Homo sapiens: one gene and its partner. The protein of the gene in region 1 interacts with the protein of each later gene in a biochemical or structural test. Each region holds a gene or a part of one and is shown in the gene's direction. Other genes may lie near its edges.

Region 1 (3,438 bases):
GTCTTGCTGTGCCACTTACAAGCTATAGGGTCTCGGACAAGTCTCTTTCCTTCTCTATTCTTGTTTGCTCATTTGTAAGAAGAAAGGGGAGGCCAGGCACCAGGCCATGGCTCCCGCCTGTAATCCCAGCACTCTGGGAGGCCGAGGTGGGTGGATCACGAGGTCAGGAGTTCAAGACCAGCCTGGCCAAGATGGTGAAACACCGTCTCTACTAAAAATACAAAAAATTAGCCAGACCCGGTGGCAGGTGCCTGTAATCCCAGCTACTCGGGAGGCTGAGGCAGAGAATTGCTTGAACCTGGGAGTCAAGATCAAGCCACTGCACTCCAGGCTGGGCAACAGAGCGGAAAAAAAAAGAATAAGAAAGGGGATAGGCAGAAGTAATAGAAATTTCATAGGGCTGTTATGAAAATTAAGTGAGCAAAATTTGTTGTTTAGCCAGCACTTACAAAATCGCTAAGGAACTGTATTTTTTTTTTTTTTTTTTTTTTGAGACGGAGCTTCGCTCTTGTTGCCCAGGCTGGAGTGCAATGGTGTGATCTCAGCTCAGCGCAACCTCCGCCTCCCAGGTTCAAGCGATTCTCATGCCTCAGCCTCCTGAGTAGCTGGGATTACAGGCATGCACCACCATGCCTGGCTAATTTTGTATTTTTAGTAGAGACGGGGTTTCTCCATGTTGGTCAGGCTGGTCTCGAACTCCCGACCTCAGGTGATCCGCCCGCCTCGGCCTCCCAAAGTGCTGGGATTACAGGCGTGAGCCACCGTGCCCGGCCCAGGAACTGTATTTAAAGTACACACACACACACACACACACACACACAGAGACAGAGAGAGAGAGAGAGAGAAACTGAGCTAATTCGAGGCAGTTAATAGTGAATGGTTGAAGGTGACTGTTATTATAAAGGTTGTATCACATTTCTGTGTGATCCAAAGACTGCCTACATCAGAATCGCCTGAGATTCTGGGAATCACTGAGCCCCTCCCTGCCTTCCTCCCTGGACTACCCAATCATAATGTCAGAGTTCCCCAAATAATTCTTATGTGCACTAAACCTCTCAGAGCTCTTGGTGAATGACTTTCAGTGATTGGTGTGCAAACTACAGTAGATAGATAAGTTTGAAAGCACATCTTAGCCCATGCTGCGCCAAAGCTCTTTCTTTCTCTTGGCAGGTGACATGAAATGGCAGAAGCTAAATCCCACTGGGGCTGCTCCAGCAGGCTGTGCTGCCCACTCAGCTGTGGCCATGGGAAAACATGTGTACATCTTTGGTGGAATGACTCCTGCAGGAGCACTGGACACAATGTACCAGTATCACACAGGTGAGCAGGTGTCCATGGGGGATCTTTAAACAAATCTAAACATTCTTTGAAACGTGATGCGGTGGCTCACGCCTGTAATCCCAGCACTTTGGGAGGCCGAGGCAGGCAGATCACGAGGTCAGGAGATCGAGACCATCCTGACCAACATGGTGAAACCCCATCTCTACTAAAATACAAAAAATTAGCCAGGCGTGGTGGCGGGCGCCTGTAGTCCCAGCTACTCGGGAGGCTGAGGCAGGGGAATTGCTTGAACCCAGGAGGCAGAGAGGTTGCAGTGAGCTGAGATCACACCACTGCACTCCAGCCTGGTGACAGAGCGAGACTCTGTCTCAAAAAAAAAAAAAAAAGAAAGAAAGAAAAAAGTGATGCAGTGCTTCCAATTTGGTTCCTCTATATCTAAATCCAAAAGAATGAAAACTCTGTAGGGGATGACATCAGGAAAGCAGCAATGCTGCCATAAGGTTTTTTTCCTTTTACTCCTGTTTGTTAGGACTCGGCTGCTACAGTAAATCACTGAGCATTTCTAGAAATTTCATTACTTTTTAAATTTTATTCAGATTTTGGCTTTCACTATCTGGAAATTGTTTTTTTTTTTTTTTTTTTTTTTGTCTGAGATGGAGTCTCACTCTGTCGCCCAGGCTGTAGTGCGGTGACGTGATCTTGGCTCACTGCAAGTTCCACCTCCTGGGTTCACGCCATTCTCCTGCCTCAGCCTCCCGAGTAGCTGGGACTACAGGTGCCCGCCACCATGCCCAGCTAATTTTTTTTTTGTATTTTTGGTAGAGACGGGGTTTCACCGTGTTAGCCAGGATGGTCTCCATCTCCTGACCTCGTGATCCACCCGCTTCGGCCTCCCAAAGTGCTGGGATTACAGGCGTGAGCCACCGTGCCCGGCCTATCTGGAAATTTCTTAACATGAAGCCTTTTCCCTCCCCAACATAGAAGAGCAGCATTGGACCTTGCTTAAATTTGATACTCTTCTACCCCCTGGACGATTGGACCATTCCATGTGTATCATTCCATGGCCAGTGACGTGTGCTTCTGAGAAAGAAGATTCCAACTCTCTCACTCTGAACCATGAAGCTGAGAAAGAGGATTCAGCTGACAAAGTAATGAGCCACAGTGGTGACTCACATGAGGAAAGCCAGACTGCTACACTGCTCTGTTTGGTGTTTGGTGGGATGAATACAGAAGGGGAAATCTATGACGATTGTATTGTGACTGTAGTGGACTAATAAAACCCACATTTTTATTACCTGTCAGTTACTTTCAGAATAGTTAAGTAAAACATTAGCTGTTTTATACCTCCAAAATATCTTCTGCATTATATATCTGTTTTTCTCCTACTTTGGTAGGTGAAGAAACTAATGCAAATAATTCTTATGTGCACTAAACCTTGCTATATTGCCTCTCAGAGCTCTTGGGAATGACTTTCAGTGACTGGTTTGCAAACTGTGGTAGATAGATAAGTTTTGCCCAATGCAAAAACCTCCACTGCATTAACATAAAAGGCTTTGGGCCAGGCTTGGTGGCTCACGCCTGTAATCCCAACACTTTGGGAGGCTGAGGAGGTGGATCACCTGAGGTCGGGAGTTCAAAACCAGCCTTACTACCATGAAGAAACTCCGTCTCTACTAAAAACACAAAATTAGCCGGGTGTGCTGGCCCATGCCTGTAATCCCAGATACTCAGGAGGCTGAGACAGGAGAATCGCTTGAACCCGGGAGGCGGAGGTTGCGGTGAGCTGAGATCACACCATTGCACTCCAGCCTGGGTGACAAGAACGAAACTCTGTCTCAAAAAAAAAAAAAATATATATATATATACATATATACACACATATATATGTATACATATATAGTATATTTATATGTATACATATATATGTATACATATTTATATATACATGTATTTATATATGTATACATAAACACATATATATGTATACATATATATATATATAAAAGGTTTTGCCAACAATACAAACCTAGGTAGGTGTGATTTGTGTATTAAATGCTAATCACAAAGTTGCAATATGGTTAGGGTTAAAAAAGAAGTTGCAGAATTATAATTGGTAAACAACAAACTATAGACATCAGACACATAGTTGAAGTCTAT
Region 2 (5,195 bases), on another chromosome or scaffold:
GAATGACTGAAGCAGAGACTGTGAGGGGAAGGTGGCTAGAGTGAGGCTGGCCAAGAGCAGGGGCCAGGTGTCTTGCCTTAGAAGTTGGACTTAGTCCTGGATCTCTGGGAAACAACCCGCTGAAGAATTCTGAGGAGACATTAGATAGATGGTTCCCCTATGTCAAAATAGTTGGTTTGCTTTTATGGTTTTCAATCTTTTCTTTTTAAGTTGTTGAAGCAAGATGCCAAAGAATTAAAGCAGCCAATTTAGCACATTGTTACCTATGTCAGGAAAGTAAGGGGCTTGGGACTGTTGCAGTTTCCTCTTTAACATTAATAGTCTGGATATTGAGCAATACATTTGAAATTGAAAAAGTCTCTCAAAAGGTATGCACCTTAACTGCCACACACTTGTGTTGGACAGTTTAAATTGTATTAATATTAATTATAGTAGTAATTACTGTAGTATTAATTTGTTTTGTTTTTTGAGATGGAGTCTTGCTTTGTCACCTAGGCTGGAGTGCAGTGGTGCAATCTCAGCTCACGGCAACCTACGCCTCCCAGGTTCAAGGGATTCTCCTGCCTCAGCCTAGTACCTGGGACTACAGGCGCTTGCCACCACGTCCAGCTAATTTTTTTTTTTTTTTTGTATTTTTAGTAGAGACGGGGTTTCACCATGTTGGCCAGGCTGGTCTCGAACTCCTGACCTCAAGTGACCTGCCCGCCTCAGCCTCCCCAAGTGCTGGGATTACAGGTGTGAGCCATCGTGCCTGGCCTGTAGTAGTAATTTGAAAGAACCAGTAAGAGGTAGGGACTAAGGTATGTCCCATCATTTTTTAATAGTATTTCCCATTCACTTGATTTCTCACTATACAAGCCACTACAAGGTTTTTATCAGAACAGTGGAGCATGTGGCTAGAAGTGCAGAATTCCTACATGTTACAGTAAGTGTTCAGTTACACTATAGTTGCTCACATTGCATATAACCAGGAGACAGCCAGATAATGTTTACTGCAGTGATTTTACAAATTCATCCTGGTCAATATAACAATTATTGTTCATGTCTTTATTGCCTTCCCATGGAGGGATTCATAATACCTACTTTCCTATTAAGGTTATTGACCAAATTTGCTCTAGATCTGTGCTCTCCAATTGGCTCATTAAATGTGGCTATTTATTTAAAATTGAATAAAATTTAAAATGCGGTTTTTCACTTCCATCAGCCTCATGTCAAGTGTTCCACAGTCACATGCGGCTAAGTGGCTGCTATATTGGACATTTCCATTGTTGCATAAAATTCTCTTGTACAGTGCTGCTCTAATAGTTATCTTCTTATATACATTTTAGTATACTTAAAAACCATTTAATACTAAAGTACAGATTAAATGATATAATCTGATTCGAAATAACTGGGGAGAAGGGAGAGTTGGAGGGGTTATGGAGGAAACAAGATTTGCCATAAGTTGATAATTGTGAAGCTGGGTTTAGAGTTCATGGGAGCTCATTGTATTGTACTCATTATATAGAAATTTTGTACATGTTTTACATTTTTCACAATAAAAATGTAAGCAGAAGGATTAACCAGGAACTGTGCTCCCACCAGCACCTAGAAGTAGCTGTCTGTCAACGGGCATCTGAAATCTCACCCCCCACAGGCTGGCTCTTGTAGTGTAGTAAAGTTTTTAATCCTGCCACAGGACTTCTAAAGAACACATATAGTACCACATTTTCATTTAAGGTTTATTTCATTCTACCTGAAAACACACAAGTAGCAGCAGTCTCATGTTCCTTAAGTGTTTGAACTGCCCAAGTGAATCTTGTGGATAGAATGTGCTAGATTATATTAAAAATTCCATTGCTGCTGACATTAATTTGAACAAATTCAAAATAATGTTCTTAATGAAGAGAATAAAGTCCATTTACTCAGTGGTTGGTTCATACTTTATTTCACAGCCAGGTAAGTCAGTTTCTGTCTCTGGCTTTCCTGGTTAACAGCACCTGTGTCTGAAGAGAGGTGGAGGGAGTAGTAGAGAAAGTCCCTGGTAGGAGAGAGGCCTTAAGTGAACACCATCACTGTGCACTGAAGGGCTGTTTGAAGTTGTTAAGAGAAACATGTGGGCTGGGCATGGTGTCTCACGCCTGTAGTCCCAGCACTTTGGGAGGCCAAGACAGGTGGATTGCTTGGGCCCAGGAGTTTGAAGCCAGCCTGGGCAACGTGGTTGAGACCCTGTCTCTACAAAAAAATAGAAAAATTAGCAAGGCATGGTGGTGTGCACCTGTGATTTCAGCTACTTGGGAGGCTGAGGTGGGAGGATTGCTTGAGCCTGGGAGTTCAAGGCTGCAGTAAGCCAAGATGGTCCCATGCACTCCAACCTGGGTGACAGCGAGATCCTGTCTCAAAAAAAAAAACAAAACCAAAACAACAACAACAACAACATGCGAACTTTGGTCTCCTACCCATCTCTAACAAATGGTGGGGCTTACTATGAGCAGAGAGGGGCTTATCATAGAGTAACGGTTCAGAGCAAGGGCTTTGGGGTCAGACTTGGGCTTGAGTGCCAGCTTCACAGTCAACTGTGACCTGAGAAAAGGGAAGAGTGAGCCCTTCCCAGCTGTTTCAGAGAATAATGGTAGAATAGTAGCCTGCACATGGCTAAGTGCTCAGTAAACAACAAGTCTTATTATTAGGTATTCCCTGGGGCCATATGTTTTATTTCAGCTAAATGCTGATATTCGTAGAATCATGTAGAAGAATGTGTAGGTATAAAGGAATGTAATGGTGCCTTTTTATTTTACAGGGTTCTTGAAGCTTTTGAGATTAACAATGGCAGGAAAATCATCACTTTTTAAAGTAATTCTCCTTGGAGATGGTGGAGTTGGGAAGAGTTCACTTATGAACAGATATGTAACTAATAAGTTTGATACCCAGCTCTTCCATACAATAGGTGTGGAATTTTTAAATAAAGATTTGGAAGTGGATGGACATTTTGTTACCATGCAGATTTGGGACACGGCAGGTCAGGAGCGATTCCGAAGCCTGAGGACACCATTTTACAGAGGTTCTGACTGCTGCCTGCTTACTTTTAGTGTCGATGATTCACAAAGCTTCCAGAACTTAAGTAACTGGAAGAAAGAATTCATATATTATGCAGATGTGAAAGAGCCTGAGAGCTTTCCTTTTGTGATTCTGGGTAACAAGATTGACATAAGCGAACGGCAGGTGTCTACAGAAGAAGCCCAAGCTTGGTGCAGGGACAACGGCGACTATCCTTATTTTGAAACAAGTGCAAAAGATGCCACAAATGTGGCAGCAGCCTTTGAGGAAGCGGTTCGAAGAGTTCTTGCTACCGAGGATAGGTCAGATCATTTGATTCAGACAGACACAGTCAATCTTCACCGAAAGCCCAAGCCTAGCTCATCTTGCTGTTGATTGTTAGATTGTTGATGCATTCTAACCAACTCACACATATACACAAAATCAACATGGGGATGGAGAAGAGAATTAGCGTTTGCAGCAGTGTATCATCTACTAATAAAATTAAACTAATGTTGCTGCTTCATTAGTTGGTGGGAGAAGGGACACATCCACTCTTGGAGGAATATATTTACTCAATAATGGCACCTTACATTTATAAATTGTAACAGTTGTCTAATAACGTTTCTTTAATTTAAATATGTAAGTTGCAGAGCTAATAAATGAAATGACCAAGACTTTAATTATAATAAAAATAAGAAACTTGACTATTCTAGAAGTTATACTTGGATTTTTTCCTGGGAAAATGGAGAACTACTTTTTATATGTGTATGTTTTTATGCAATTAGCATTGTATTCTTGGTTCAGGGAAATACTTTCCTAAAGCAATAATGTTAGATATTAAAGATTAAAATCTAATGTATTTGCAATGCATTGTTAATTTACTTCTTCATTCTCTTCAAAATGATTTAACCATTCCTGTTTTCATTCTACATACTAGAATTACTCTCACTAGTAATTACTCATCATTTGTGTGCCATTCATGCACCCCCACCCCCATAAATCATGTTCCACAGTCTCAGGCGGAGGGTGGGCCCCCAGTGGTACAAGAGTTGCTTCATACAGTCTGTAATACATCCAGCTAAATTCAAGTTGTCTATGAATGGAAAGCCTTTCCATAGATAGAGTTCAGTTTTAAGAAAAAGGCTAACTACTGAACTTGGAGAACAGACAAATGTGCATTTGATAACTGATGTAATAATTACAATGTACTGTGTGGAAGATACAAAATTACAATTCGATTAATGGACTAAATATTTTTGTTACTTTCTTGACCCTTGGGGAAAGTTTCTTAATTGAAGTTAAAACATTCCTTTATAACACAAGACACAAGCTGACTTTATCACTCTCAGAAGAAATACTAAGAAGGATTGTACTTTGTGAGAGGGTAAACGAAGACATCTTTATTCGGCAATGTATTTACTTAGTGTCTTCTCTATTACTGAACATTTAGTGATTTGCTCTCAAGGAGATTTTTTGTTAGAAAAAGACTTGTTGCAGTGATCAGACTTGATAAAGCAAATTGTGGTCTTTTGTGGATGAAGTTCATATGCTGTGTGGTTGGTGACTATCTGATTCTATGGAGGCTAACCAAAGCCTAGACTGAGTGTGGATGAGACCCTCAACTGGGGAGTGATGGGGATATCAAAGGACATGCTGGGTGAGAGGAGCTGACTGTCATGTAGGGAGTGAACCACTGCCCCCAGCAGAGATACAGTTCGGTTTTAAGAAAAAAGGCAAGGCCAGGCGCGGTGGCTCACGCCTGCAATCCCAACACTTTTGGAGGTCAAGAGGTCGACACCATCCTTGACAACATGGTGAACCCGGTCTCTACTAAAAATACAAAAATTAGTTGGGCATCGTGCCTGTAGTCCCAGCTTCTCGGAAGGCTGACGCAGGAGAATCACTTGAACCCGGAAGGTGGAGGTTGCAGTGAGCCGAGATCACATCACTGCACTCCAGCCTGGTGACAGTGAGACTCCACCTCAAAAAAAAAAAAAAAAAAAAAAAAAGCAAACTACTGAACTGGAGAACAGACAAACCTGCATTTGTTAACTGATGTAACAATTACAATGTGCTGTGTGGAAGATACAAAATTACAATTCATTAATGGACTAAATGTTTTTATTTTTCACCCTTGGGGAAAGTTTCCTAGTTGAAGTTAAAACATTCCTACTATT

Evidence for each region.
Region 2: the proteins of RABEPK (region 1) and RAB9A form a complex in vitro, tested with the Homo sapiens proteins (one study listed by BioGRID).

What each region holds. Positions count from the first base shown.
Region 1 is NC_000009.12:125,231,426-125,234,863, forward strand, and holds the end of RABEPK (rab9 effector protein with kelch motifs), read left to right. Parts: intron 1-1,170; coding exon 1,171-1,320; intron 1,321-2,262; coding exon 2,263-2,555; 3' UTR 2,556-2,736; downstream 2,737-3,438. UniProt on the Homo sapiens protein: Rab9 effector required for endosome to trans-Golgi network (TGN) transport.
Region 2 is NC_000023.11:13,705,942-13,711,136, forward strand, and holds the end of RAB9A (ras-related protein Rab-9A), read left to right. Parts: intron 1-2,779; 5' UTR 2,780-2,805; coding exon 2,806-3,411; 3' UTR 3,412-4,563; downstream 4,564-5,195. UniProt on the Homo sapiens protein: The small GTPases Rab are key regulators of intracellular membrane trafficking, from the formation of transport vesicles to their fusion with membranes.